Homo sapiens: one gene and its partners. The protein of the gene in region 2 interacts with the protein of the main gene of each other region in a biochemical or structural test. Each region holds a gene or a part of one and is shown on either strand. Other genes may lie near its edges. The genes, in order: ENPP1, INSR, SH2B1 and TRIM72.

Evidence for each region.
Region 1: the proteins of INSR (region 2) and ENPP1 form a complex in vitro, tested with the Homo sapiens proteins (one study listed by BioGRID).
Region 3: the proteins of INSR (region 2) and SH2B1 form a complex in vitro, tested with the Homo sapiens proteins (one study listed by BioGRID).
Region 4: the proteins of INSR (region 2) and TRIM72 form a complex in vitro, tested with the Homo sapiens proteins (2 studies listed by BioGRID).

The regions. Positions count from the first base shown.
Region 1 is NC_000006.12:131,802,970-131,811,331, reverse strand, and holds the start of ENPP1 (ectonucleotide pyrophosphatase/phosphodiesterase family member 1), read right to left. Parts: upstream 3,313-8,362; 5' UTR 3,297-3,312; coding exon 3,057-3,296; intron 1-3,056. UniProt on the Homo sapiens protein: Nucleotide pyrophosphatase that generates diphosphate (PPi) and functions in bone mineralization and soft tissue calcification by regulating pyrophosphate levels.
Region 2 is NC_000019.10:7,111,282-7,116,905, forward strand, and holds the end of INSR (insulin receptor isoform Long preproprotein), read right to left. Parts: 3' UTR 984-5,624; downstream 1-983. UniProt on the Homo sapiens protein: Receptor tyrosine kinase which mediates the pleiotropic actions of insulin.
Region 3 is NC_000016.10:28,859,046-28,867,206, reverse strand, and holds the start of SH2B1 (SH2B adapter protein 1), read right to left. Parts: upstream 3,365-8,161; 5' UTR 1,113-3,364; coding exon 174-1,112; intron 1-173. UniProt on the Homo sapiens protein: Adapter protein for several members of the tyrosine kinase receptor family.
Region 4 is NC_000016.10:31,208,924-31,217,765, forward strand, and holds the start of TRIM72 (tripartite motif-containing protein 72), read left to right. Parts: upstream 1-5,195; 5' UTR 5,196-5,374; intron 5,375-5,808; 5' UTR 5,809-5,815; coding exon 5,816-6,205; intron 6,206-7,038; exon of another isoform or gene 7,039-7,234; intron 7,235-7,819; exon of another isoform or gene 7,820-7,835; coding exon of another isoform or gene 7,836-8,105; exon of another isoform or gene 8,106-8,212; intron 8,213-8,842. Other genes in the region: PYDC1 (pyrin domain-containing protein 1), read right to left, coding at 7,836-8,105. UniProt on the Homo sapiens protein: Muscle-specific E3 ubiquitin-protein ligase that plays a central role in cell membrane repair by nucleating the assembly of the repair machinery at injury sites.

The DNA of each region.
Region 1 (8,362 bases), on a different chromosome or scaffold from region 2:
GAAACATGAAAGTAGTCTTCAGTGACCACCACCCATACGCAAGCCCTTTACACATACACAGATACACAGATATATGTATTCATAAGTATAGCAGAAGGTCACAAACAACACAAAAAAAATGCTTTTGAGGAGCTAACTGGAGAAATGTATTGCAATGTAGTTGAGAATTACATGACTGTAAAATCACACCAAGAAACAAGAAGGATATTTAAATACATCTCCAAGTCAACACATCTCGGTGGAAGTCTACACTTCAGTTCAAAACTTCATTTACAACCAAGGAAAGGCATCTAATATTTAACATACCTACTGACACATGTAGAGAATAATACTTGTTTTTCCCTCTTGCTGTTTTCCTCAGTTTGGCTCAGTACCTAGGCACAAGCATTCCAGGGCCCAGGGCCAAAAGCCTCTAAAGCACAGCTTGGTGGCCCTCTCCTAAGATCAACCACCACAATGGGGAGAAGCCAGGGTAGGACAGAATCCTCACTCCTTCATCCACTCTCACACATCTACATCATTTTAGTTTATCTGAGAAAACTGCAGAGTAATGTAAAAATTACATTGCCACTGCAACATGATTGCCTCTGAAAGGCAAGGCAACGCAACTCTTCTATTTATCCTGCTAAATTAAAACAGTGTAGCTGAGGATCATAGTGCTGGGCCTCTCCTAATCCCAACCCCAGGTTGCAATTAGTTCAATCTGTTTCTGCAGCTTTATGAAAAGTGTGCTGAGGTTTAATCTGAAAACAAAAGGAATTCTATAATTGCAGCTCCTTTCTAGAAGACATATCCCAGAGCTCTTTGACGACAATTGTCAGGATGCTTTTGGGGCCTTTTCCATTTGGAAGCCCATTATTTGGGGAAGTTTTTGGGGGGGGGGCGGGGTTGGGGGAAAAAGGTATTGAAGTAGGGAAGGGAAAGAAGAATACGAGTTTGCACTTTCAGTTCAGTAGCTAAATAGCAATTTCAACAATAAAGGGTCTCACCGTGTCACCCAAGCTGAAGTGCAGTGGCACAATCACAGTTCACTGCAGCCTTAACTTTCCCTGGCTCAGCTGAACCTCCCATGTCAGCCTCCCAAGTAGCTGGGACATAGACGCATGCTACCATACCCAGCTAATTTTTGTATCTTTTGTAGAGATGGGTTTCATCATGTTGCCCAGGCTGGTCTCAAACTCCTGGGCTCAAGCAATGGAACCGCCTCAACTTCCCAAAGTGCTGAGATAATAGGTATGAGTCACCGCACCAGGTCTATTTGGTAACATTTGTATGTTAATGTCTCACAGTGTTCCATCAAAAGATATGAAGTAAGAATTCTTTCCAATTCAATAGATGCAAAAGACCCCAATTAATGGATAAAAAAGGTCCATAATAGTCCTACTTGTGGAAGTAAGTCCTAGGACACTTCCATGTCAAATGCCCAGAGTAGCATCATCACACAGAATGCTGTTTGACCAGTTGACTGCAGGTCTCAAAGACTGGACAGCTTATTCCAAAACTAGACCTTTGCTGATATCTGTTGTGGATGTATAAGTAAATGAGCAAGAAAAATTTAAAACCTGAATTTTGCAATTGGAAAACCTGTAAAGGTTTATAGGCATGTAGAAATGGTTTTACACAAGAGTTACACACTGATTCCATATACAATTATCGACTACCTCATCGTGTGTGAAACACCTCAAGGTATTAATACTAAACAATTTAAGTGATCAGGTTGTAAAAGCTAAGGTCTTCCATTAACAAAATTTTTAAAAGGTGACTCAAGAGACTAAGTTCTCATCAATATTGTGTTATTATAGACTCAAAACAGTGTTACAAGATGCAAAATTTTATCTTGAGATGCAAACATCATGTGGCTTGGGGTACTTATTCTGTGAAACTAAGGCTTCTTTTTAAGTACTAAGCATACGGCACCATCTCTTAAGTCTAGGAAGATTGATTCCTCAAAGTATTATAGCATCTCCATGATGTCCCAAATATAGTGAAAATGGAAATGCATACAAAATGAAAGGAGACTTGAAAAATTAGAAATTTTTCTACAAAGCATTATTCAATCATATGTAAGGGGATATATTTTAGGGTACACTATACATAGAAATCTGTGATTTCCATATAATACAATAAAAATGATTCTATTTCCTTGCTGTTTTCAATTTACTTCCCTACCTACATTCTTCAGCTTGATTTTCACAATAATCCCATGCAATGCACAAGGGAGTTGATGTTGTCCCATTTTCACACATTAGAAATTGAGGTTTAGGGACAGTTACGCAAGGCCTCAGCAAATAATAACAGCCAGGAATCCAGGCCTTCTCTCAATCAGCACTTCCCACCATGAATTCAGAATAAAAACCAACCCCCACATTTCATGAAGTTGACTGTGGGTCCTGCAAATGTCATAGCAAAATAGCAGAGGAGTAATAGGTAGCTTTTGTTAGCAACACAAACCGTGTAGCCTCTGGTTAGAAGAGTGGGCAAAGAATCATAAAGGTTTCTTCAGTCACATAATGTGAACATCCATGGAATTTCTGAGCACCTGCAAGGAAATTCCAAAACGGAGCGAAAGGGAAAAAGTGTTCCGTAGAGTTCCTAATAAAACTTAAAGAGCTCCGCTAACTCTTCAACTGCAATCAGTTAACCCAAGTGAAGTCATGTATACTGCGCCCAGAGCCCCCTAAAAGAAGCAACACATTGATGCACCTTCTTAAGACCAACAACTTTCGCGTTTGACATTTTTCTCCTCTAAAAACCCGTACTCTCCTGGGGCAGGGGGTCGAGTATTTCTAAGGATGACCGTTTTGAACAGCCTGCTTTCACAGGCATCCATAATTCAAGTGAGAGTGAACCATCCTGCCCTGGCAAGGTACCTGGCAGGGGCGGCTGTGTAGGGCACTTGCAAAGGCTGCGGAGGAGAGCGCGCGGGCGAAGAAGCACTCCCGGACCATGCCTCTCTCCGGTGCCCGGTGCTGACTGCGCTGAGAGCGCAGGAGCTCGGCGCCGCCCTCCCCGTACTCCCAGCCCTCCCGGGCGCCGGGGCCTGGCCGCGGACCTACCAGCGAGAGTACTTTATAGGTGTTGGGGTCCTTGGCAGTGCGGGCGCGCGCCGCCTTCTCCAGCGGCTCCTCCCCCACGTCCATAGGGGCCAGCAAGGACGCGGCCGCCTGCGGGTCCCCGGGCGCCTCGGCAGCGTGGCTGCGGCCCCGATCGCGGCCGTTCCCCGCCGGGCCCTCCCGGGGAGCGCGCCCGCCCTCGCCGCCGCGGCTCCCGCCCCCCGCGCAGCCGTCGCGCTCCATCGTGGCCCCGGCCGCTCCGGCCCCGCTGCCCGGCCGCGCCTTTAATAGGCCCCGCGCCGCCCGCCCCGCCCCGCCCCTCCCCGCCGCGCCCGCCCCTCGCGGTCAGATCCTTGGCTCCCCGCCCTACACCCGGCTCTCGCAGTCAGGGCAAAGCGACTCAACGCCCCGGATTATTTGGCTTCCTGTCTGATTTCGGGCACTCTGTGTGTCGGTTATTTTGGGTCCCTTACGTGGGCGTGTCTTAAACTTCCCCCCAAGCCGTCCCCTCCCCGCGCCCCGGCCACCCTCCCGACACTTGCAGGAATCGCCCTGCGTGGCCTCGCGGCGCGGGCTGGGCTGGAATTGCAGCGTGTGGTCTGCAGAGGGCATGAGATCATGGGGCCCCAAAATAGAGCGGGGAGGAGGAGAAGGATGCAGCCGCCGATGCCGGTCCGGCTTCTCAAAGGCGGGAGAGAGTGGAGTCTTGGGGTCGACCTGTGAGTTTCTGGATGGAAATGCAAATGAACCATGGAGGAAGGCGACTTTCTGTTTCTCCCCCTCTGCGCCCCGTCCCCCACTACCTACGGTACTCTGAGAGAGAAATCGTCCACTTAAAATACGTGGGTTCACATGTACTGAACACACGTAAGGGATATTTCGATTCCCACGGTTTTATGTGGTTTCTGGAGTCTTCTCGCTATTGTTTGTATGTATATTTGCTTATTTTTCTAGACTTTCTGTATTGAAGGTTTCAGGAGTTGGCGTTGCCCTCTCCTGAGGTTGACACTGATACCTAGCTATATCAAAAGTGTTAATGCAATCTGAAATACTTTGATAAGCCTTATTTTTCAACTAGGACGCTAACAGTGAGCTGATTCTTGGTGGGTTTTGTTTTACCTTTGATTCTGGAACTTGTACATTTTCTGGCTCATCACTTAGCAAAATCACCAGTGTGTAGTGAAGTGAGACAGAGGGAAACCAGTGACTTCGAACTACTTTGCAATACCCAGGACTGACTTCAGGTACCAAGGAAAACAATTAATTTTCAATACATTTTGAATACATGAATATATACAAGTGTTTACAAATGAGAATGAATGTTTAACAAATATAAAATGCATGTTATCCCTTTAAAATAGTCAACTTGGGATGCTCTTCATTTATACTGACTCATCCATCCACCCATCCATTTATTCATCAAGTAATGAATCCTTCAACTCAATCTTTTGGCCTCCAACTATGCATACCATATAAAAAATGAATTAAAATGTATCTTTCCTTAAGTGTGGTGGAAGCGGGGGTGGGGGGGTAGGACCAACTCGTAAACAAAATAATTAAAACCTAAGTCATATATGCAGAATAGAGTCACACATAGGATATTGATACAGGAGATAGAAATTATTTAGGCAGATAGTATGAGCAAAAGAGCCCTCGGCAGAACTTACCTTCTAACAAAAAGCAGCCCAAGAAATCACTTCCTTTCTAACAAAGAGCAACCTGGAAGATTGGGCTGCAAACATAGGTAAGGAAACTGGAAGCTTGCACGGGAGATGCCGGCAGCGGCACAGACAGAAGGGGCTACTGGGGCCAGGCATGTCCACCATGGGGGTTCCACCTCCCCTCTTTTTTACCACATGCACAGTAAGAAGGAAATAAGCAACACGGAGTAGCTACCTGCCTATATAGTAGAAGATTGGGGCCGGGGCTGCCAGACACTTAAGCCCTATGCAGATGACACACCTGGTCCTAACCGGGTTTTCATGCCATATGCACGAAACCGGGTTTTCCCTCCTTATGTAGATCAGACACCGCCTCCCCACTAGCTCATCTATAAAAACCCCTGCATTTCACCACGTATTGCAACCCATTTTTTGGGACCCCTCTCTGTAGCAGAGCTATTCTCCTCCTTTTGCCTATTAAAAATTCTGCTCCAAACCTCACCCTTTGTGTGTGTCCACATATTTGATCTTTGTGGCCGTGAGACCAAGAACCTCGGATGTCACCATAGACAACAAAGCTACTTCAATATTATGAGAGCTTAGTAGAAAGGACAGTTGACATCTGGAAGAAGTAAAAGCCTTCCCTCAAAGCATTATTGAACTTTTTTAAAAAGTTACCTTTGAGTCAGCTCACAAACCACCCAAGAGAAACAGGTTTTCACTGTTTCATAATCACACATATTTTTCTGCCCCAAACTTGGCTCCAAATTTTCCTTTGACTCTTTCCAAAAATCAGATTCAAGGACAAAGATTTGCTCCACTGAGACTGGTCAAATGAGTGTCAAAACCTCTAAAAGCAACTCAACAGAGACATTATCCAAAGTGCCTTTAAACCTGACAAAACAAATGGAAGAAGTGTATTGTCTGCATCTCAAGGCAACGAACCACTTTAAAGACTTAACATTTGGAAAACACAGTGTGCAGTCTCCAGGGTCACAAACATCTTAAGGCCTAGGGAAAGCATTTTTCTGTGGCATTAATTTATTTTTAAGATTTTGTATGACATCCTGGTTTTTCTTTCTTTTTTTTGAAAGCACAATATGCCATGAACCATATTTGACTGAGGCAGCCCTATACACACTGCAAAAGGCAAACCATGTGCCATGTTAAAGGTTGCAGCATCTATTCAACAGGATTGTGTGCCCAGTGTGGGCAGATGGTCAGATTTTTCAAGAGAAGCAGGAAATTTAAATGTTTGTGTGAATTCTCCGGTTGCAAAATGTTGTCTACAAAATTCAGAGAAACAGTTTCTTCAAACAAACAAAATGTAGCACGTTTAAAAGCCAAACAAAATGTAGCACATCTGCAGGACAGACCTGGCACACACGTCACCAGGATGTGGCCTCTGCCTAATGCTCATGCCTCATCTGTGCCAGGTGGGACTTAATATGGGTAATTATAAAAACCCAATTGGAAGTCTAAAATCGGAAGAATAAAAATGAGCCAAGGCCGGGCACGGTGGCTCACGCCTGTAATCTCAGCATTTTGGGAGGCTGACGCGGGTGGTTCACTTGAGGTCAGGTGTCTGAGACCAACCTGGCCAACATGATGAAAACCAGTCTCCACTAAAAATACAAAAATTAGCAGGGCATGGTGGCACATGCCTGTAGTCCCAGCTACTCTGGAGGCTGAGGCAGGAGAATTGCTTGAACCTGGGAGGCGGAGGTTGCAGTGAGCCAAGATCATGCCACTGCACTCCAGCATGGGCAACAGAGAAAGACTCTGTCTCAAAAAAAAAAAAAAAAAAATGAGTCAGATATGCCATTTTCAGGTTTAGCTATAGACATTGCAAAGCCTATAGTGAAATATTGCCTCAGTCTTCTTTATTCTAAATGATCTGAGGGACAGCTTCACCATCACATTCCAAAGTACAATAAGGTCATGAGATATAAAACCACAACACAATTTTTGGGTTAATGCAAAGGTGAACAATGAATGTTTCATCCTTAATCCTAAATCACTCTGTTTTAGTGATTGCATACTCTAATCTGGAATAGCAGTAAAGATGATAATTTAAGATTTTGTGTAAGTTTTCTATTAAGTTTTATTGTAACATAAATATTTAGACATTTCTGTCTTGGTGCTTGAAGCTTTGGTTGTAGATAAGGCCAAAACACCAAACAAAAACAATTTATCAATGTTTAATTATTACTTTGAAATATTACTTTGAAACAACTTTTCTTAGTGATTAAAAAATGAAATATGCTGTAGGGTAATTATTTTAGCAGCTGTTTCAGAGCTTTTCCAGCTTTCTTCTAATTCGCCAGTAAAACAAGAAAGACATCTAGCCAAATCTAAACAGAAAAAAAACCCACAAGCCTCTTTAATCTTTGTGAGGCCTAGGGAAAACATTTTTCTGTGGCATTAATTTATTTTTAAGAATGTGTATGACATCCTGATTTTTCTTTCTTTTTTTGAAAGCACAAAAATATGTCCCCTGGAGCAAGAAGCTTGGATAACTATGTGACCTTGAACAGATTACCAGAAGCCTCTGAGCCTTAGTTTCCTTATTTGTAAAATGCTCTTTCAGATAATATCTCTAAATGCCAACAAAATGTTTGACATTTCAACTTTACACAAACATTTAAATCTATCATTTGCATTTGTAAATCAACCACTCACTACCCCTAAGGGAGAGAATAAAAAGATTTAATTTTCTCCTATATTATGCATGGTTTATATATAATCTCTGGGAAGGTTTGAGACCTGTTATTGGGCCTGCATCTACAAAGAGGGTAAGGAAAGGATTCTTGCTGCTCTGGGATGAAGGAGAGATGCCTACAGGGATCAGTTAGGTAACAAAACGAATAGAGAGAATTCAGAAGTGTAAGATCCAAAGGAGAGTAATAGAACCTGGGAAAATGGAAAACGCATGTACCATCCAAAGAGAGTGTGGGGTTCTAATTAGGGAAAAGGAGTCAGGATGGCGGGACCGAGGGAAAGCAAAAATATAAAGCAGATAAGCTGTAAGTCTGCCTTGCTTTGTGGTCCAGAACATGTAGCCCTCTTGCACAAATAACTCACAATCTTCCTGCACTCAGCTATCATCAGACCCTCGGGTGATTAAAAAAAAATGCAAGCTAATTCACTGCAACCTCGGTGTTATCAGTACTGCACAAAGCCCTCTTCAGCACACAGCACAAGCACCATTCTAGAACATCCCCAGCAAGCCTTCGTCTCCTTGCAGTCAGCTCCTCTCTTGCTGGCCTGCCCATTGTTCCCTTGCAACACATTTTCATACGTGCTCTAATAAATATGACTTTCTTTACCTACAAGTATCTTCATAAATTCTTTTTACCCCCACACCACTGGCCCCAGATTGTCGCTGATTACCTGCTACAGGAAGTTGGTTTCTAGTCCTTCACTTTTTGTTAACCACGGTATCTGCCACTCCTTCATTATCTCTTACACTTCTATTTCAAACAAAATGTAGGGTTGCCAGGTAACCTGAATTTTAAGTTTGATTAAAGTACAATTTACCTATTATCATATCTACCCATTATATGCATACAGTTCAGTGATTTTTAATAATTTATACAGTTGTGCAACTATTAATATGATCCAGTTTTGGAACAATTTCATCACTTC
Region 2 (5,624 bases):
ATGCCTGCAATCCCAGCACTTTGGGAGGCCGAGGCGGGCAGATCGCTTGAGAACAGTAGTTCGAGACCAGCCTGGGCAACATGGCGAAAACCCGTCTCTACTAAAAATACAAAAATAATCATCATAATGATAATAATAAGGCTGGGTGTGGTGGCTCACACCTGTAATCTCAGCACTTTGGGAGGCTGAGGCGGGCGGATCACCTGAGGTCAGGAGTTTGAGACGAGTCTGGCCAACATGATGAAACTAAAAATACAAAATTAGCTGGGAATGGTGGTACACGCCCGTAATCCCAGCTACTTGGGAGGCTGAGGCAGGAGAATTGCTTGAACCCGGAGACAGCGTTGCAGTGAGCTGAGATTGCACCACTGTCCTCCAGCCTGGGTGACAGAGTGAGACTCCATTTCAAAAAACAAACTAACAAAAACAAAAACAAACAAACAAAAAAAGAAAATAAATAAACAGTTGCTGTTTTAAGCCACTCAAGAAAGACTATTCAAAAGGCTTTCAATCCCATGGTCTAACCCATGGTCACTCACCTGTCCACCCAACCTGGGACAGGTCTCCACTCCCAGGATGACATTGAAAATACTTAACATATGAGTTTCCCGCATGTCAGAATAGAGCAAGATCTTGAAGGTTCATTGGTATTCTCGGAGTGAACCCTTTAGTGGTTGGACCATGGGGAGGTCTGGGAGCCCTTGGGGAAGCGCTTACTTACCAAATGGTATGGAAATAGTGCAATATTTAAACCACCAGTTTGGCCATACAAGTATGTCCCTACGAGTCATCAACTCTGCTGGTAGCAACTATTTAACCTCCCTTTTCATGTGTGGAAGAATCTAGGTGTTTTTCTCCTCTAAAAAAAGGCACCTACATATTCCAAGAGGTTTTCCTTAACACAGCCCAACTCATAGCCACATCCCCCGACCACACGACAGGTCCTTACCGGGACACCACACAAAAACAAGCGTATTCTCAGATAATTTAATCAGAATTTTAATATAAACAGGTCATTATCCCATATTTTACATGCAGAACGATTTCAATATTCCAAAAAAAAAGGCGTCTTCTGTACATGGTGCTACTTGGCTCTTGTAGGAAAACATTGAAAAAATAATAATTGAGCTGTTGGGGGGTTTTGTGTTTCTGAGTTGTTTTCTGCAAAAGCTGCAGCACATTTGATCCTGCGTTGCCAACGCACAGGGCCGAGGCCACCCAGGCACACAAAGGGACGAGGAGAAGCAACTTTCAGGCAAAGTGTAAAGACTAAACAAGCTGTTCCTGAATATGTGCATGGGTGCACACTTATTTTGAGGCTCTTCCTTCCTTCTCCAATGGGACCAAGAGCCCCAGATTTGTGATCTGGTTTTTAACAAGGATTTTCAGTGGCCCGCACCCAGATAGAAATTTGGCTGGTGGCTGGTTCTGGACCTTGACTAGTATCAGAAGGTAAAAGTAAGCTCAAAAAGCCATTGTGTCCCCTCCCCTCACTCCCATTTCTCGGGGACCCTTAAGGAAATATTCACCTTCCATTGCACTCCCTGAAAGTCCACCATGTTCTTTTGTATGTTCTAGGAAAAAAAAAAGTGCTGACCTGTTCTTTTCATTCCCAACCTCACCTCGCATATAAATTAATATTCTGAAGAACATGCTGGAAGATTTTCTGAAGTGACACCCCTCTCTGTGTACCATGTATATAAAATCGGCATTCCCTGTTCCCCATCCTCAACAAAACCATTGTTTCTGAAGAGCCTAAGGTGTCAAGGACTCACCAGGTGACATTCAAAGGACATTTAACCCTAAACTTCCACCCACTGTGAAGGAGAGAAATGATTAGCACTGGGACTACAGCACATCCATTTACCGGATGACCAGCGCAAGTCATATGCTGATGACGCTCCTGCTCTTTCACACGTGTTACAGCAGACTACAAATAAACACCTCCCAATCCAATAAGCACATTTCTTGGTGGACTACCTGCCCTGCTAGGATACAGTGAAAGATCTGTCTGTCAGTTGGTAACATAGTCCCCAGGGTCACAGGATGACCTATGCAGACCCTTGTGTCAGTTCCCACAGCTTCTCTCAATCATCCTCAGCCTATATCCAGACAAGCAGCAGTGCTTCTCTTTCTCACTGCTTCCAATGATGAAACAGCACCTAGGACAGCTCCTAAAACCTGAACATTTTCTGATGCGTATTTGACATCACTGATGCAGAGAGAAAGTGATGTGCTTGGTATTCTCCTCCTGGAAGAAGGAACTCCTGTGTGGCTTTCACTACATTAATGAAAAGGGTTTTAATCATAGTGAGACATCTTTAAGAACAAGCAACAAAAAGTGTTATCCTAAGCTGGTTTTGTTGCTTTTTGTTGTTGTTGTTGCAACTTAACACTACAAACTCCCAGGACAACCGTGTCTTTCTAGGACCAAAGTTTTATTGTTACAAAGTCAACATTTCCTAATGTCAAAGGAGGTTTGCAACCCAATAGCTGTTTGCTCTTTTCACTGTGGCAGTAGAGTCAAATAAATGAAACTGGTGAATCCCATTTGCAAGGGGCAGGCCCAGCACACCCTACCTTTCTCCAGGGCAGGTGGAGAAAGGTGAGTCTGCAAGGGCAGTGCCTAAAAGTACAAGAGCAGCAAGATTTGGGCCCCACTGGTCCTGCCTAGACTCTCACATGGGTTATCAAAGCTGCACAAGGTCCAATAATATCAGCTTGAGGTCAGTCAAACCCCAACACAGAGGTCCAAGGTGTTGTTGCAAAAAAAAAAAAAAAAAAAAAAAAAGCGTTCAGCACATTAATGGGTTTTGGATTGGAATTTCCCTCACATGCTCCCATCCCACTTGGAGAATTTAAAAAGACATTGCATTAGGTGTTTGTGTGTAAGGTGCATCACCAGCCTGAAAGGAGTGGGCATAAACCATCAGGGAGCCCAGGGCACCTTTGTGCTCACTTCAGGGGGATTCCATGGAACAGGTGGGAATGCTTGCTCTGAATCAAAGCCCGTCTTTGCCCCGGCAGCCATCTCTCACCAAAGGAAGGTACACCTTGCTGGGTTACCCCATATATCAGATACATCATGACAGCCTGGAACTTAGTTTATGTTTGGGGAACATAGTGACAATAGATGGAGGATTTTTTTTTAAAGGAAGATTAAATTCAGAGAAGAATATTACCAGCCAGGAAGAAAAGGATCTATGCTCGCATAAAGGCCATACCTTCTCCATCCCAACTCCCTCCCTCAAAATTCTTACTGGTCCCTGGCATTCGAATCAGCTGATACACACGTTCCCTGATTCAGACCGGTTCCAGGTAGAATTCTGAAATCTCAAAGATGTCCATGATTGAATCACATCTTAACAATACACTGAGGTAGACTGTGCTGAAAAAAGAAAATCACTATCCCCCATTCACCTGTTTATTTTTCTTTGATAAAAATTTACATGCGCTCCATTTTTTATGAGAGTGATTTTCAGAGTGATTTTATATATTAAAATAAATACTTTTTCCCCTAATATAAGAAAAACCTTTCTGAATTAGAAAAATGTGAAAATTGCAGCTAGTGTAGTATACAACCACTACAAATTTACTAAGAAGAGAACAAAATACCTAGTTCTACGTGTTTTTTTTTTAAATTTAGGTACAGACCCTCATATTTACAAAATAAATTTGGCAAAAATAATTTCTGTACTCTTGCTTCTTGTACCCAATCACTGAGGCTCCTCAGCAATATTTTTACATGCTGTATTTTCCCGAATCATATAAATAAGATAGCAATAGACAATTGGGATTCATGTCTACCTGTGTTCTTAATCAAGAATTGAGAGGGCTTGGAGGTTGCCATTATGACTCTATCCCATTCTTAAGCCCACAACTCTTAAGAGAAGAAGAAAAGGAAGCAGTCAAAAAGTTGTAAGAAAATGCACTCAGGAATAACGCATGGGCGATGATTTTTTGATGAACCAAAGTGATGAGTTCACTGTGTTCTTTGAGCAGCTGTGGTGGTTCTTTTTGCAAAGAGAAGAAACGGTGGATTCACGCCCATTCGGAAGTTCTTGGTGGTGTGTAAGGTCTTTTTCACGGTTTCTCCTCCAGACTCTACTCTCTTAGGGATTGCAACACTGTAAGCACCTGAGCATTCAGCTCAGGCACCACACCTGGCCCAGATGAGGTCACCGGGCTCAGAGCAGCTTCCGGGAGTTCAGTACTGAGGACCGTCAGATGCTCTCAGGGTGGAGGGGACCAAGACGTACTCTCAGTGCACCTCTCTCTTACATTGCTTAGATGTTCCCAAAGTCCATCCAGGTTGTTGTGCTTTGGGATCTGACGTTCTTGGGTTTGCACAATAACGGTTAGGATGTTCACACCCGGGAGAGGAAACGCCACAAGAGGTACACACAGAGAATCAGAGGATGAACACAGGTGTTCTTGAAGGCAGGCTCAGAGCTAGGTAGCTACCAGCTTATCCGAACAGGAACCTTCCAGCAGACCTGGTACCTGAACCAGACCATCCATAAAACCTAGTCTCTCACACACTCCACGTGGCCTCACAACATCCAAAAGTGTTAGCAGCGAACATGGCTTCATTCCCAGAAATGGATGCCTTTAAGACCAAACAAAGAGGCCACTTGTGCCTGACTCCCTCCCCTTCCCGGCCCCACAACAGGCAGACCAACTCATGTCCCCACTCCCCGCCAACCCCGGGGAATAGTCAATAACTTATGAGGCTAATACCAGAGACTTTAAAAATTAAATATGGTACAAATATATTCTCAAAACTCTGTCATCTCAGTTCTTTTTTTTTTTCCTTTTTCCATTTTGTTTTTTCTTTCTTTTTCTTTTTTTTTTTTTAATGTCCTAGCTTGGTTTGGTCTTGAAAAGATTCATAATCACTCCAAATGAAATGCTCCTCCCTTGGCCACCAATGTGAAGGGAGGGTAGAAACCTGAGGCTAGACTTCTGACACAAGAAGAATCTGTCGAGAGCACAGTCTCCCAGTCAATAAGAAGGAAGGAGAGAGGGGGATGAGCTCGCACCCTTGAGAAGAACCTTCATGAGCCAATTCCCAAAGCATCAACTCCGCATGGATACTTTGCACACACATCAGCCGTGTCTAATGGACACACACACGTGCATACACACGTGAGCACACGCCGGGACCACAGACCCTTATCCAAAATATGAAAGCAGCAGCTATTGGTCAATTTGAGGAACTCATTTTGTAAAGAAAAAAAAAATCCTTCAGCCTGGATGAGAGAAAAAAAAAAAACCAAAAAAACCATCTTGAAGCTCAACCTGTAAAACTTGAAATTCTCCTGGAACAGGGCTGGGTGTTTTTGTTTTGTTTTTTCTTTCGAACTTTTGTTCCACAAACAGGAAGTTTTGTCTTTTATACTGAAGCTCAGACACCAGCAAAAAAAAAAAAAAAAAAAAAGAATTTGTAAAAACAGGTGCTTTCTTTCCATCTGCTGGGGGCGGGTGGGGGGAACGAAAAAACACAAAATCCTGGTTTGAAACCGTCGTTGCCCCAAAGGAGCAGCAACTGTGGAAACCCCTTGCCCTCCAGGTTCACAGTTAAATCCTCTGCAGGACTAGTTAAATTGGTAACCAAACGAGTC
Region 3 (8,161 bases), on a different chromosome or scaffold from region 2:
TTCTCAGTCCTGCCCGCAGCTGCTAACACAGAGCCAAGAGCCAGCTTTACCAACAAAAAGTGAGCGACACCAGGGCCATGGGCTGGTAAACCCCAGAGCTTATCTGCAGGGCTGTGACCACTCTGAGCACTCTCTCACTTGCTCTCAGTCACCCACCCTCCAAGGGGCCTCACCTTGGGTGGTACAAAGAACTCCAGGCGACTTCCTCCTCCTCCTTCTCCTTCACTTCGAAGCAGCAGGCGACACTTCTGCCACTGAGGCTGCCCTCCTCCCCCTGAAGGAGGCCCAGCCACCCCTCCTCCCCGGCCCACTCCGGCTGGGTCAGGGGCTGCCTCCTCAGCCCCCATGAAACTCAGCAGCTCTTCCCTCTGCACCATCCCTGCTCCATCCTTCAAGGCGCCCCCTCCCCGACTGAGTCTCAGCCTCTCAAAACGGTGAGTCCATCTTTCCCCAGGGGACGTTCCATCACTGACCAGTCCCCTACCAACGGTCCCAGCCCCGCCAGAGGAGTTGGAGTTGCTGTTTCCACCTAAGACTGGGGGGCCTGACGAGGTCTCCAGGGGCCCAGCGGAGGAGGGAGGGTCAACGGTCCCCCGCCACTGCAGGATGCCACGGACTGAGCCTCGGACAGAGCGACCCACTGAACGCAGGGAAAAGCGCTTCTTGAGCTTCGGCTTGGAGGAGGTTGTAGAGGAGGAAGAGACTGAGGAAGGGAGGGGGCCGGCCAGGTCCTCAGATGATCGAGAAGGGCCCAGCACAGCCAGGGGCCCACCCACCCTGCAGCTCTCAAGGGACAGGTCATGTGGCGAAATCTCCGCACCAGGGCTCAGGGGAGCCAGGATGGGTGGCGACAGGGAGCCAGAGGCCCGGGCCACCTCGGCTTCAAAGTGCTGCAGGAAGAGCTCAGCAAAACGGCGGGAGAAGGCAGCCTCGGCCCCGGGCCCCGCATATTGGGGGTGGGAGGCCAGGTAGAGGCGAAAACGGCGGGCAAAGTCCAGAGCCGCAGCCCGGGCGTGGGACTCACAGAACTCCCGCCAACTAGGGGGCGGGGGTGGGGGCAGCGGGGGAGACGAGGGGGAGGCCCCGTCCTCTGGGGAAGGGGCACCATTCATGATGGGCCCCAGGAGGTGGAGAGGGGGAGCCTGTGGGGCACAAAGAGGGAGGCAGCCAGAAGACGAGGGGTGGGCGGCAGCAGCTGCGAAAGGAAGAGAGAGGCACACACGAGGGTCACTGCTGAGGGCGCACCGGAGGCTGCATCCCACCCCCAGCCAGAGACGTCCGACCCTACTTCAGACTCCGCAGAGAGCAATGGGGAAGGGAGCCCAACACCTCCCTTCCCTCTCCCAGATCCTGGCACCCTGCAGGCCCCAGCCAACTGGCTCCCCAGCGTCTAACCTGCCCCGAGCCTGCCACATTTGCCCCCACTTTCCTTAGCTTTGGATCCAGCAGTAGAGGGCTTTGGAGCACCTTCCCCCTAAAAAAGGGAACTTTTCCAGATCACCCCCCCTCTACATCGGATCCTCCAATATTCATGTCACACTTCCCATGAGCCATTCTAGAGGCTCCCACTTGGTTATCTTACCTTTCCCTGAGAGGTTTCAAAGACCTCTCGAACAGATGAGGAAACCGAAGCTCAGAAAAGTTTCAGAACTCCAAGTCTACTGTTTTCCCCACTTCATAGTCCCTGTCCCCAGGGCCCGGCTGGGCCAGCCTCAGCCATAGCACCTCACCGCCCCAGCTCGCAGGGGGCTAGAGAGGAGCTGGGATTCTAGACCTTAGAGAGCCTGCCTCACGCATCTTAGGGTCCAACTCTTTGGAGGGGGCCGATTCATTAATGAGGATGGATGCATGATGGACCAAAACAGTAATTGTCTTGAAAGCTGACCCCAGAGTCCAGCACCCACGCACTGCGTGAAGGAGATGTGAAATAGCTACAGCCCACTTCTTTGGTATCCCTTCAGTCTGGGGCCAGAGGCCGCAGGGGCCCCAGAGGAGAAACTGGGTTGGCTCAGGTCAAGTCTTTGCTGGCCTCACGTAAACAAAACATCACAGGGAGAGCTGGGGCCCTAGGATTTTTCACCTTCCTCTTCTCCCACTGGGGAGTATGCCCTAAAGGCAGGTTAGCCTTCTGGTTAAGGCCATGGACTTGAGTCAGACCAGGGCTCAAACCACCTTATGAGCACCCAGTCCAGCCACCTTATGAGCGATGTTATCTTGAACAAATTCCACGTCCTCTCTGAGCCTCCGTTTTTCTATCTGTTAAACAAAGCTAATGATCCCTCCCCTCGAAATGTTGAGAGAATTACATGGAATGGGGTATGTCAGCGCTGAACGCAAAGTAAGCATCCGCTGAACGACTGCCATTGTTACTATCTTCATGTGGGAGAAGAATATTATTGTTCCAATTTTCTAAAATAGAAATTAGAGAAAGGAGGAGCCCTCTCAAGGTCTTACAACTAGAAAGTGGCAGAGCTGGGTGTGGAATTTACAACCCTTGGCTCTTGTTAGCGCTCCTCCCGCCACGCAATACTGGAAGGTGACAGCCCCAGGACTGGGGCCAGAGCAGCTCAGGAAAGCCTCCCCAAACCCTCAGCGACCTCAGACTCCTGTTCAAACCTACAGCCAGGCTGTAAGTCGGTGAACCCTCCCCTTCCTCCTGGGCCTCGACCCTACAAGCTCAGATGGCTCCAACCGCAGGGACAACTCCAAACCAACGAGAAACAATCAGGAGATGCAGGAGTCATGGAGCACGGGGGAACCCAGCCAAGAAGTGCAAACCAATCTCCAGCCAGCGGCCACCTCGGCTCACACAGGCCCACCCAATCCTCCGCACCGCAGACAGACCCAGCCCCCTTCAGGCCCGCTGACCCTGCGACTCCTAAGCTGGTGACTCAGTTTCTCTTCTGCCAAGCAGGACTCAGACACATTTTCCCGGTGCACCTGCCTCCTGGCTCAGTTCTGATATTTCCCGAAGGGCGGGAGGTGGAGGGTGCAGGCTCCGCTCTCGGCTCGGACCCTCCGGGCCCGGTGGTCCATATACTCCGATCCGACCCTACTCCCTGGACACCCCCCAGCCGCCCATTTTCCGGGGCCGCATCCACCTCGGGACCAGCCCTGTCTGCTGCACTCTCCGGGGCCGAGTGCCTCTCCAGCCCCCGGCCCTCCACGCCCACCCCCACCCAGGAATCCTCTCGGGCGCCAGGGCCGGGTCGCGGAGAGGGAAAAGGTACTTGAAGAGGGGGGTTCCGGTTCCGGTCCCACCTGCATCTCGGTCCCCGAGGTTAGCTCCGGCGGCGGCGGCGGCGGCGGCGGCTCCCGCTCCCTGCGCCCCCACCCACTACGCGACGAGCGCCCAGCCCGGTTCCGCGCAGGCGTCAGGACCCCCTTTCCCGTCGCTGAAGGAAGAGACCATAGAGAACAGCGGCGGGAGGGAAGGGCACCTTCATACTTACTTCCGCCATCCTCCCACTCGGCGCCGACCCCAGGAGACCGAAGACGGTGTGAATCTCGTAGGGCTTCAGTGCCTTCTCCAGTTGCACCTAAAAGCGACCACAGACGCAGCGGGGGAAGTGCTTGGATCCCACCAGAGCGTCCTCCCGGAGGAAATTCGGGACAAAGGGGCGATGTCGACCATAGAGAACCGGCCTTAGGGGATAGAGTCCCAGGGCCCGGCTGAGGGCTAGAGTAGCCGCCGAGCACCGGAAACCAGCGAGATGATGAGGCTGTGTGAACGGCCCGCTGCAGCCTAGAGCGCCGGCCCCGCTGTGGAGGGGCACGCGGACAACGCCACCAAGGAGCTGAGCGAGGAAAGAAGCGGGTGACCTTGGGGAGGCCCTGCGGGGAGGCGGAGCCTGAACTTACGACCTTGGTTTATCTGAGGAAAGGGGCAGGCGGTCCAGGAGTTTGCATCTCTGAGGCTGGAGATGAAGATGGTGGTAGTGGTGGGGGAGGGGGTGGGTAGAAATAATGAGGTCAGGGCCGGGCGCAGTGGCTCATGCCTGTAATCCCAGCACTTCGGAAGGCCGAGGCAGGTGGATCACCTGAGGTCAGGAGTTCGAGACCAGCCTGGCCAACATGGTGAAACCCCGTCTCTACTAAAAATACAAAAATTAGCCGGGCATGGTGGCGCGCGCCTGTAGTCCCAGTCCCTCCGGAGGCAGAGGCAAGAGAATAGCTTGAATCCGGAAGGCAGAGATTGCGGTGAGCCGAGATGGCGCCACGGCACTCCAGCCCAGGCAACAGAACTAGAATCCCTATTTTAAAAATAGAAAAAAAAAAAATGAGGTCAGGGCCGGGAGCGCTGGCTCACGCCTGTAATCCCAGCCCTTTGGGAGGCCGAGGCGGGCGGATGGCTTGAGGTCAGGAGTTTGAGACCAGCCTGACCAACATGGTGAAACCCCGTCTGTACTAAAAATACAAAAAATTTAGCCGGGCGTGGTGGCAGGCGCCTGTAATCCCAGCCCCTTGGGAGACCGAGGCAGGAGAACAGCTTGAACCCGGGAGGCAGAGGTTGCGGTGAGCCGAGATGGCGCCACGGCACTCCAGCGCGGGCAACAGAGCTAGACTCCCTATCAAAAAAAAAAAAAAAAAAAAAGAATTGAGGTCAAGGCCGGACGCAGTGGCTCACGCCTGTAATCCCAGCACTTTGGGAGGCCGAGGCGGGCGGATCACTTGAGGTCAGGAGTTTGAGACCAGCCTGACCAACATGGTGAAACCCCATCTGCAATAAAAATACAAAAATTTTAGCCGGGCTTGGTGGCAGGCGCCTGTACTCCCAGCTACTTGAGAGGAGGCTGAGGCAGAAGAATCACTTGAACCCCAGAGTCGGAAGTTGCAGTGAGCCAAGACTGCGCCACTGCAATCCAGCCTGGGCAAAAGAGCGAGACTCCATCTCAAAAATAATAACAATAATAATAATGAGGTCAATTCCAGACGTGCTTTTGGGACGTCTGTGGGCATATAGTCTGGAGCTAAGAAGAGACATCAAGGCCAGTTAGAGAAATCGAGAACAATTAAAGTACGGAGGGTAGTTGAAAGCATGAGCACAGTGAGATCCTCCACCCATCCAGTGTCTGATTGACCCGGCTCCAGCTGGCCTAAACAGTAAAGGAAGCTATGGCCCAAGTAATCGAAAAGTCCAGAGCGGACAGATTCAGACAGGTGAACACAGGGGCCAGAAGATATCAGGAACCTGTGGCTCACCATCTCTGGTTCTGCCTTCCCTATGCATTTGGCTTCACCCTCAGGCAGGCTCTCCTCTCTTAGTGGCAAAATAGCTTCTTGTAGCTCCAAGCTTAAACCCTAATAGCTTAGCAACTCTCCTAGAAGGAGCATGCCTCTTTTCTGAGATTCCCAATGAAATTTCCAGAACTGAGTAGCTGATTGGATCAAGTGCCCATCCTGGAACTCGAAGACAAATAAATAACCCAAGAGGGGAAGACGGATAAATCCTGACTCACCTAAGAATGTTCAAGGCCGGGCACAGTGGCTCACGCCTGTAATCCCAGCACTTTGGGAGGCCGAGACAGGCGGATCATGAGGTCAGGAGATCAAGACCATCCTGGCTAACACGGTGAAACCCCATCTCTGCTAAAAATACAAAAAAAATTAGCCAGGCGTGGTGGCGGGTGCCTGTAGTCCCAGCTACTGGGGAGGCTGAGGCAGGAGAATGGCGTGAACCTGGGAGGCAGAGCTTGCAGTGAGCCGAGATCGCACCACTGCACTCCAGCCTGGGCGACAGAGCGAGACTCCGTCTCAAAAAAAAAAATGTTCTAAGATGGCCGGGCGCAGTGGCTCACGCCTGTAATCCCAACACTGGGAGGCTGAGGCGGGCGCATCATGAGTTCAGGAGTTCAAGACCATCCTGGCCAACATAGTGAAACCCCACCTCTACTAAAAATACAAAAATTAGCTGGACATGGTGGCACATACCTGTAATCTCAGCTACTCAGGAGGCTGAGGCAGGAGAATCACTTGAATCTGGGAGGCGGAGGCTGTGGTGAGCCAAAATCGTCCCACGGCACTCCAGCCTGGGCAACAGAGCGAGACTCCATCTCAAAAAACAAAAAAGTGCTGGGCATGGTGGCTCAGTCCTGTAATCAATCCCACTGTTATCAATCCCAGCACTTTGGGAGGCTATGGTGGGCAGATCACTTGAGGTCAGGAGTTTGAGACCAGCCTAGCCAACATGGCGAAACCTCATCTCTACCAAAAATATAAAAAATTAGCCACGTGTGGTGGCGCGTGCCTGTAATCCCAGCTGCTTGGGAGGCTGAGGCACGAGAATCGCTTGAACCTGGGAGGTGGAGGTTGCAGTGAGCCAAGATCATGCCACTGCACTCCAGACTGGGCAACAGAGCGAGACTCCATCTCAAGAAATTAAAAAAAAAACAAATCTGGAGTCCTAACTGTTGGAACAGAAATCACATACCAGAGACCAGGGAGTGTGGGAGTGAGTATAAGATGTGTGTGTGTCGGGGGGAAATGGGCAAACACAAACACAAATGATATAAAGGGATCCGTGGGGGATCACAGGGTGTGCTGCCATGGTCTCTAGAAGGCATTGATAACTAAGAGACTGCTGCGTGACTTGGTGAGAGTAGTTTCAGCAGAGGCCAAATGGTAGTGGTTTGAGGAATGAGTGGAAGGTAAAGAAGTGGGAGGAGGCTGGGCACGGTGGCTCCCGCCTGTAATTCCAGCACTTTGGGAGGCCAAGGCAGGCGGATCACCTGAGGTCAGGAGTTTGAGACCCGCCTGGCCAACATGGCAAAACCCTGTCTCTACTAAAATTAGCCAGGCGTGGTGGCACGCACCTGTAATCCCAGCTACTTGGGAGGCTGAGGCAGGAGAATCGCTTGAACCTGGGAGGTGGAGGTCGCAGTGAGCCAAGATCGTGCCACTGCATTCCAGCCTGGGTGACAGAGCAAGACTCCATCGTAAAAAAAAAAAAAAAAAAAATTCAAGAAGTGGGAGGAAAAATGTGGAGAGATGTTCTACACAGTTTGGCTGAAAAGGGGAGGACAGAGATAAGGCAGGTTGTAAGTGTGAGAAGGTAGAAAGGTTTGCTTGTTTGTTTCTATCTTGAGGAAGATCTGATTTTGTTGGAAACATTAAGGGGAAAGGAATCAGTAGAGAGGATGGTCGCTGAAGGAGCAAGGTTGCGGAGAAGGTTGGTGGGGACGTTATCCAGGGCCCAGGTTAAGCCAAGGCATTAATATGAAGGGGAGAAACCCTTCTTCCTCATAAGCAGGGATGTAAAACTCGGGATGCTTTCCGCTATAACTACTAGAAACCCTAATTCCAGCTAACTTAAACATGAAAACAGCCGGGGGGGGGGGGTCTATTGGTTTAAATAATTGAAAAATCAGAGATAGGATGACTTCAGGCATGGCTGGAGCCAGAGGCTCAAACAATGTTGATTTGAACTTGGTCTCAGTCTCTTTTAGTTCTGCTTTTCCCTGGACTTTCTTTCTTTTTCTCTCTCTCTTTTTTTTTTTCCTGATACAGGGTCTTGCTCTGTCACCTGGGCTGGAGTGCAGTGGTACAATCATAGCTTACTGCAGCTTCGAACTCCTGGGCTGAGGCAGTCCTCTCACCTCAGCCTCCCCAGTAGCTGAGACCACAGGCATGACCCACGCCTGGCTCCCTGGACTGTCTTCATTCTCAGGGAGGTTGTCATCTCGTAAGTAGCAAAATAGCCAAGCCTCATTCTACCAGCTTAAACAACCCTGGCAGAAAAAGAGTATAGCTTTCCCAATAGCTACAGCAAATAAAACAGGGGTGTCTGATGAGCTCAGCTTTCATCGCCCAGTGATCTTTTGTCATTTAATAAGGAATTTATCTGTTGGGTACTGGGCTTAATACCTGAGTGATGACATGTATAACAAACCCCCATGACAGGTGTCTATCTATGTGATAAACCTTCACATGTATCCCCAAACCTAAAATAAAACTTAAATAAATAGGCTGGGCATGGTGGCTCACACCTGTAATCCCAACACATTAGGAGGCTGAGGCAGGCGAATCACCCGAGGCTGGGAGTTCAAGACCAGCCTGGGCAACATGGTGAAACCCCATCTCTACAACAAATACAAAAAAATTAGCCAGGTTGGGTGGTCCATGCCTGTAATCCCAGCTACTCGGGAGGCTAAGGCATGAGAAC
Region 4 (8,842 bases), on a different chromosome or scaffold from region 2:
TGAACTTGGGAGGCAGAGATTTCAGTGAGCTGAGATGGCCCCACTGCACTCTAGCCTGGGTGACAGAGTGACTCCATCTCAAAAAAAAAAAAAAAAAAAACAAACAAAAAACAAAACAACTTACTTGTTGCATCTTTACAGAAATACATAGTCTTGATACTAATCCTTACATGATTCTCATTTTATAGGTGAGAAAATCAGGTTAAGCGACTTGCCCAAGGTCACACAACAAGGAAATTCTAGTCAGGACTGGAACCTGGAAGTGACAGTCACTGCTTCCTAAGCCCTTGGGTGCCAGCACACTGTCCCTGTTTATGTGGCATATTTTTTTTTCTTTCTTTTTTTTTTTTTTTTTTTGAGACTGAGTTTTGTTCTTATTGCCCAGGCTGGAGTTCAATGGCTCGATCTCAGCTCACTGCAACCTCTGCCTCCTGAGTTCAAGCAATTCTCCTGCCTCAGCCCCCCAAGTAGCTGGCGTTACAGGCACCAGCCACCATGCCCAGCTAATTTTATAATTTTAGTAGAGATGGGGTTTCACCATGTTGGTCAGGCTGGTCTTGAACTCCTGACCTCAAGTGATCCCCCCACCTCGGCCTCCCAAAGAGCTGGGATTACAGGTGTGAGCCACTGCACCCGGCCTATGTGGCATATTTTTCAGTTTAATCCTCATGACAACTCTATGGGATGGTTTTTTTTTTCTTTTCTTTCTGAGACAGGGTTCAAGCAATTCTCCTGGCTCAGCCTTTGGAGTAGCTGGGACTATGGGACTACAGGCGTGAGCCACTATACTGTTTTGTTTGTTTGTTTGTTTTTGGTAGAGACGGGGGTCTCGCTGTGTTGTCCAGGTTGGTCTTGAACTTCTGGACTCAAGTGATCCTCCCACCTTGGCCTCCCAAAGTGCTGGGATTACAGGTGTGAGCCACCACACCCAGCCAGGATGGTGTTATTTATCCACATATTGTATTTGAACGTGCTGAGGCCCAGAGAGGCAGGTGATTTTCCCAGGGGTGCCCAGCATGAGCTCATGAAGTCAGCATTCAGGACTTGCTTCTGTAGCAGCCCTGACTAGGGCTTTCTGGCCTCTCTCTGCATGTACCCAATAATTAGGAGCTCTTACCTTCCAAGGCACTCATTGCTTGAGCTGTTGGGAAACTTTCCCTTAGGACAAGCTGAAATCTATCCCTAGCTCTTTAGGTCTGAGGGACCTCATAGGGCCAGCTATACCGGTTTACCACTCCCTCCTTCCCTGCACATGGCTTATTGCCTCTTCTTGTTCTCAGTCTGCTTAAGACAATCAATGTTCCTTCCGTGGATCAGAGGCCAGTCCTGGCCCATCTGCAGGGAAGGATTGAATTGACTATCACCCACCTGTCTTAGACACCCACTCCTATAGATGACAGCAGGACCTTCAGTCCCAACTTGGCAATATTGGAAACTCTGGATGAGATTTAAGTTCTGGAAGTTGAGTTTTTGAGCATGAGCAACTTGTGGTTTCAGAGACCAGCTCCAGATATACCCTCTTTCAAACCTCTTCCTATTGCTAACACAAGGCTGCGTCTGAGCCATCAAGAATGGAAGAGAAGAAATCAGGGGCTTTTAGCCAGGCATGGTGGTGAACACCTGCGGTCCCCGTTACTCAGGAGGCTGAGGTGGGAGGATCACTTTAGCCTGGGAGGTCGAGGCTGTAGTGAGCTATGATTATAACATTGCACTCCAGCCTGGGCGACACAGTGAGACCTCAGAGACTTAAGGACAAAGAAGGTGGGGACACAAAACTCCCCTGGATTTCTCAGTGTGCCGGTAAAGAGCGCCAGCTTTGGCCGGGCGCAGTGGCTCATGCCTGTAATCCCAGCACTTTGGGAGGCCGAGGCAGGCGGATCACGAGGTCAGGAGATCGAGACCATCCTGGCCAACATGGTGAAACCCTGTCTCTACTAAAAATACAAAAAATTAGCCAGGCGTGGTGGCAGGCGCCTGTAGTCCCAGCTACTCGGGAGGCTGAGGCAGGAGAATGGCGTGAACCCAGGAGGGCGGAGCTTGCAGTGAGCCGAGATCTCATCACTGCATTCCAGCCTGGGCGACAAAGCGACACTCCGTCTCAAAAAAACAAAAAAACAAAAAAACAAAAAAAAAAAAAGGAAAAGAAAAAAAAAAGAGCACCAGCTTCCTGAGACTTTTCACATCTTAATTTCAGAATTTTATCTGCAGTCATTTATACAGGTAATTGCTCTTATCCAAAAGAATAATAGAACTTTTTTTCCTCCTAAAAGAACCAAATGTTTACAGCCTGAACGAGGGCCTAGGTTAAACAAGGTGTCAGGCAGCCTGAAGTAGCTACCTTCTTAAGCAGGCCAGCAGAAGTTCATGCTGTCACCACATAACATGCAAGAAGGAATGAGCGGTCGGGTGTGGTGGCTCATGCCTGGAATCCCAGCACTTTGGGAGGCCGAGGCGGGTGGATCACCTGAGGTCAGGAGTTCGAGACCAGCCTGGACAACATGGTGAAACCCCGTCTCTACTAAAAATACAAAAATTAGCTGGGCGTGGTGGCACGTGCCTATAATCCCAGCTACTCGGGAGGCTGAGGCAGGAGAATCGCTTGAACCTGGGAAGTGGAGGTTGCAGTAAGCCGAGATTGTACCACTGCACTCCAGCCTGGGCGACAGAGCAAGACTCCATTTCAAAAAAAAAAAAAAAAAGAAAAAGAAAAAATTAAGAACCTAAGAGACAGGCAAAGGGAGAGTCCAAAGGGGAGATTAAGAGAGTGAAACAGAAACAAAAATTCATTCTGAGAGAGACAGCAGTTGAGAGAGGAAAGAGTAAAACCAGGAAAAGGTTTGAGGGAAGCTAAGAGAAAGATGGAGAGGCCAAATGAGAGGGACTGAGTTTGCGTGTTTATTCATTCACCTAGTATCTGTAGAGCGCCTAATGTGTGTCACACACTTTAGTCTAAGCTGGAGACAAGCAGTAAACACAATTTCTATTCCGTAGGAAGAGACAGACAAGAAACCAGCAAACAAGTAGAATACATTGCATGTCAGATGCTGATAAATGTTATGGAGAAAAGGAAAGCCAGGCAGTGAGATGTTGGGGAGTTAGGAGATTTAAAATCAGGGAATTGGGAGAGGTCTTGCTGGAAAGGTAATATTGAGCAAAGTCTGAGGGAGGAAAAAGAGGATGCCATGCAGTACCTGGGTTGGAGAGTGTTCCAGGCAGAGGGGACCGTAAGTGCAAAGTCCCTGATGCCGAGTGATCAATGGGGAAAGGGGTGATAAAAGAGTCAGAGTGATTAATGGGGTCATAGCAGATAGGGCTTTGTAAGCCACAGTTAGCACTTTGGTTTTTATTCTAGATGAAATTTCTTTCTTTTCTTTTTTTTAATATTTATTGTTTTTTTTGAGACGGAGTTTTGCTCTTGTTGCCCATGCTGGAGTGCAATGGCATGATCTTGGCTCACTGCAACCTCTGCTTCCCAGGTTCAAGCAATCCTCCCATCTCAGCCTCCCGAGCAGCTGGGACTACAGGTGTTCTTCACCATGCCCAGCTATTTTTTTTGAGTTGGAGTTTCGCTCTTGTCACCCAGGCTGGAGTCCAGTGGTGCGATCTCGGTTCACTGCAACCTCTGCCTCCCGGGTTCAAGCGATTCTCCTGCCTCAGCCTCCCAAGTAGCTGGGATTACAGGTACCTGCCACCACACCCGGCTGAGTTTTGTATGTTTCATAGAGACGAAGTTTAACCATGTTGGCCAGGCTGGTCTCAAACTCCTGACCTCAAGTGATCCACCCGCCTGGGCCCCCCAAAGTGCTGGGATTACAGGTGTGAGCCATTGTGCCTGGCCCTTGCCAACTTTTTAATGGGGTTGTTTTCTGCTTGTTGAAATGTTTAGTTTCTTTATATATTCTGGATAGTAGATCTTTGTTGGATGCATAGTTTGTGAATATTTTCTTCCATTCTTTTTTTTTGAGACGGAGTCTCACTCTGTACCCCAGGCTGGAGTGCAGTGGCGCGATCTCGGCTCACTGCAAGCTCCGTCTCCCGGGTTCACACCATTCTCCTGCCTCAGCCTCCTGAGTAGCTGGGATTACAGGTGCCCGCCACTGCGCCCGGCTAATTTTTTGTATTTTTAGTAGAGACGGGGTTTCACTGTGGTCTCGATCTCCTGACCTCATGATCCACCCGCCTTGGCCTCCCAAGAGTGCTGGGATTACAGGCGTGAGCCACCGCGCCTGGCCTTTCTTCCATTCTTCAGTTGTCTGTCTGTTGATAGTTGCTTTTGCTTTTGCTGTGCAGAAGCTCTTTAGTTTAATGAGGTCCCACTTAACAATTTTTGTTTTTGTTGCTTTTGAGGACTTAGTCAAGAATTCTTTACCAAGGCTGATATCCAGAATAGTATTTCTCCTGCGGTTTCTTCTATGATTTTTATGGTTTGAAGTCTTACATTTAAATCTTTAACCCATCTTGAGTTAATTTTTTTTATATGGTGAAAGGTAGGGGTCCAGTTTCATTCTCTTGCATAAGGCTAGCCAGTTATCCCAGCGCCACTTAAATGAAATTTCAGCTGAGATTTGAAAGATACACATACAGGAACCAGGGCAGAATTGAGTTCTGGGCTGCAGGCTCTGGATTCAGTTCATTCATTTGTTCAATGTCTCTCTATCATTCATTCTCCAAGCATTTAGAGAGGCCTACTTTGTCCCAGGCTTGTCCTGGGTGTACTAGAGAGACCAAAGTGGAAAAGACCCTCCCCTCAGCTCTGGAGGAAGAAAACATTTCAGGGTGGGGTGAGGTCCTGCCCTCCTGCAGGTGGGGTAATCCTGCCAGGGTGACCTTGGTCAGCCATAAACTTGGGGAATGAGTGGGTGACAGGCTGGGGAGGGGCTGCCAGCAAGGAGGAAGGAGCTGGAGAGTGTGGAGGTGGGAGTGGGGGGAGAAAGGGCAGACCCCCTTCAATTTTCTGTCTTTTCTGTGGTGTGAAAGGCCCTGGCTCCCCGCTGGCTCTGAGCTCTGACTCCAGGCAGGCCGGGGAGAGAACAGTGGATGGGCCAAGACAGGTGGCCCTGTCATGTGATGTGTGCCCAGGGACTACTCAGCCCTCACTTTTAGAACGGTTTCCGGAAGTGATGGGAGGGATTGGGCAGGGCAGCTAAATATAGTCCTGGGGCCATGGCTCAGTCTGGGAGGGTCTTCCGCTGAGCACTGTGTGCCCATCACGCGTGGTGTCCACTGCCAGCTGCCCCTGTGAGTCCCTGTCCTTGCTTGGAGCCTGCTGCTTGTCTCAGATCCTTGGACCCAGCCCTGACCCCAGTCCAGCTAAGCTCAACCCTGACCGGTCCTCCTTCGAGACTCTTTCAGCCTAAGATCTCCAACCAGACCTGTGAGTCCCGTGGGCTGGAGAGAGGGGGAGGGGAGGTCTGGGTATCTTGGTAAAGTGAGGGAGGGGAGTCTCGGAGTGGGGGCTCTGGAGAATTTGGGTCCGGGACTAAGGTCAGAGGCTGAGGCCTGGGGCTAAGGCGAGGGCAAGGACAGTGGGCTAGAATCTGGGCTTGTGTTCAGGAACTGGGGTTGACTGATAGGGCATATTTTTGGGGTTGGAGCTGAGAATTGCAGTGGAGGCTGCTTTTGGGCCTGAGACCGAGTTCCTCTTTCCCCTTGGCCGTCAGAGTCCCATCCAGTGTAGGATGTGAGGTCTTTACAGGCTGGGGCTTCTCCCTGCGGGGCGGCGGGCCCGGCCTGGGCTAGGGCTGGGCCAGGGCTGGGCCGGGAGCGCGGCGCCGCGGGGTCCCCCTAACCTACTCCTCCTCCACCCAGGCCCGCCATGTCGGCTGCGCCCGGCCTCCTGCACCAGGAGCTGTCCTGCCCGCTGTGCCTGCAGCTGTTCGACGCGCCCGTGACAGCCGAGTGCGGCCACAGTTTCTGCCGCGCCTGCCTAGGCCGCGTGGCCGGGGAGCCGGCGGCGGATGGCACCGTTCTCTGCCCCTGCTGCCAGGCCCCCACGCGGCCGCAGGCACTCAGCACCAACCTGCAGCTGGCGCGCCTGGTGGAGGGGCTGGCCCAGGTGCCGCAGGGCCACTGCGAGGAGCACCTGGACCCGCTGAGCATCTACTGCGAGCAGGACCGCGCGCTGGTGTGCGGAGTGTGCGCCTCACTCGGCTCGCACCGCGGTCATCGCCTCCTGCCTGCCGCCGAGGCCCACGCACGCCTCAAGGTGCGGGATCCGCGCGCATCGTGGTCGGAGGGGCTGTTCGGTGGCACGGGGCCGATGGGGAGGTCGCTGCAGTGATTTGGATTCTGAGTCTCTAGAGAGGCTCACGAGCTCCTGGAGTTGCGGGGGGCGGGGGCGGGGCGAAGCAGCCAGGAAAGAGGGTCTGAGGAGCTTAAGGCGGGGCTGGCAGAGGAAAGCCGCGCAGGGATGGAGCCTGGCGATAAGGGCGCTGAGCAAACGTAGGTTTCCCGGCCTTAGTCCCTAGAGGAAACTGGAGATGGGCGGGCGGAGCCCCAGGGCGGGTCTGATGGGCCGGGCGGAGCCAGGCGGAGCAGGGACTGACCAGCCCCTGCGGCCCACGCTCGCATTCCTGCACCCGGTGGGCCGTTCGGGCTGGCTCCCTGCTCGGCGCTGGCCCACTTTGGACTGGAGGCGCGGCGTTCGGGACCGAGCCAGGCGGCCGGGGCAGGGTTGTCCCCTTGTGCTCAGCGGAGGCCCACGCACCCCTGAAGCTGCGGAACTTGGGCTGGCCTGACGGTCCCCAGGCGGGGCCTCACCAGAAGGGAGACTGTAAGGGCTAGGCAGCCGGGATCTGCACTTATGTGTGCGGGCCCAGGGTGGCACCGAGAGCCCCGTCCAGGATGTTTTTCTGGGTGGAGCTGGAAGTCCCGAAAGCCTTGGGAGCCCACACGCAGTTGTGCGCGTCCCGAAGTACCCAGCAGAGACACCCAGACAGAGGCAAATAGAGACGAACGCACACTGGCTGGTGCGTGTCATCCGTGTGGCAAAAGCACACACGTATAGCTACCGGCGGGCACGTGTGCGCGCAGCCCCAGTAAAGTCTGCCATGAATATTTATTGGGCAGTGGAAGAATAAATGACAGGTGCAGGGGCTGGAGGAGGCGGGGTCTGGAGGCACGGAGGCGTCCTTGGTCCCCGAGGTGGAGACACTGCTGTTGTCTTACGCGACTGGTGCGCGCGTGGGGCTGGCTTCACAGGCGTTGCATTACTCCTTTTGCCTTGACCCGCCTCCTAGAAGGGGTAGACCACCGTCCTTTCGTTGGTATTCGAGGCCCCCAGACTTCCCAGGGACCCAGCCTCTCAGTCCTGCCTGGCCCAGTTCAGCCCAGTCCTAGCTGGTGGTCTCCTAGCTCAGGGCAGGAGCCTCCTCCCGGGACCCCTCCCATCCCAGCACACCTGTGCTTAAGACCCCAACCTCAGGGCAACCCGCTCGGATCCCCTTCCATGCTGTGGAAGCTTTGTTCTTTTGCTCTTTGCAATAAATCTTGCTGCCGCTAAAAAAAAAACAAAAAACAAACAAACAAAAAAAACCCAACCTCGCCCAACCTTGCCCGTCTTTATCTGCGAAGAAAGCACAGAACCCATGAAACGGAACAGGGCCCAGGCAGCCCAGGAGCCTGGAAGGGGGCAGTGGGGCGAGATGCAGCCCACCAGGGTTCGCGGCAGCCCAGCCCTTCGCCCCCGGGAGGGGCTGGCCGGAGGTCTGAGGGAGGACCCCAGGAGGGACCCTGAAGGAGGGGAACAGGAAGGCTCTGGGCGGGACCTGACGCGTGGGTCCTTGGCGAGGAAGCGGGGTTGGGTCCCGAGATCACGTACCAGCTCAGAGTGGCCCTCACGCAGCCCGCTGCAGCCGTGCGGCCTCCTCCAACATGCGCATGTCGCGCAGCACGGCCACGACGAGCTCGGCTGCGTAGTCCTCGTAGTAGGAGGCGACCAGCTTGTCGGTGAGGTCCACGATATCTAGCTGCCCGAGCGCGCCCCGCGGGATGCGCTCAAAGCCCTCGCGCAGCGGCACCGTCCCCAGCTTCATCTTGAACTTCTTGAGCTCCTCCGGTGTCAGGTTCTCCAGCACCTTCAGGATGGCCTCGCGCTTCGTTCCCATGGCTCAGCCCTGCGCCTCTGAGCCTCCGAGGGCCTGGAGCCATCAGGTCCTACCTTTCCTGCAGCAGGTGGAGCTGCCGCCCCCGGGGATGTCCCGGGAAGGAGACTGATCTGGCAGCTCCTATTCAACCCTGTGGCTCCTGCTGGGAGGGGACTCTGCAAACACCGCCTAGAGGGTCCCCCAGTTTCCCCTGGGAGAGTGGGGGCGCCAAATTGTTGAGGTGGGGATTGCTGTTCCCAATCTGCAGAGGAGGAAACAGGTTGCAAGTCATTGAGGCAGGAATGGAACTGATTCCATGGTCAGGCACCTCCCAGCAAAGAAGTGGCTTTGTAGCCTGGCATGGTTGCTCATGCTTGTAGTGCCAGCTACTCGGGAGGCTGAAGCAAAAGGATTGCTTGAGCCTAGGAGTTCGAGTTGTGATTCTGCCACTGCACTCCAGCCTAGGCAATCCTGTCTCCAAAAAAAAAAAAAAAAAAAAAAAAAATGGCTTTGGCAGGAGTATTGGGAGCTCTCCTATATTTGCATATTTGCATTTGAGGTCTTGGGTAAGATCTAGACCACAGAATGGTTGGTCTGTGCAGGGGACATTTTTTTTTTTTTTTTTGAAATGCAGTCTTGCTCTGTCGCCCAGGCTAGAGTGCAGTGGCACATTCTTGGCTCACTGCAACCTCCGCCTCCCTGGTTCAAGTGATTCTCCTGCCTCAGCCTCCCGAGTAGCTGGGATTACAGGCACTTGC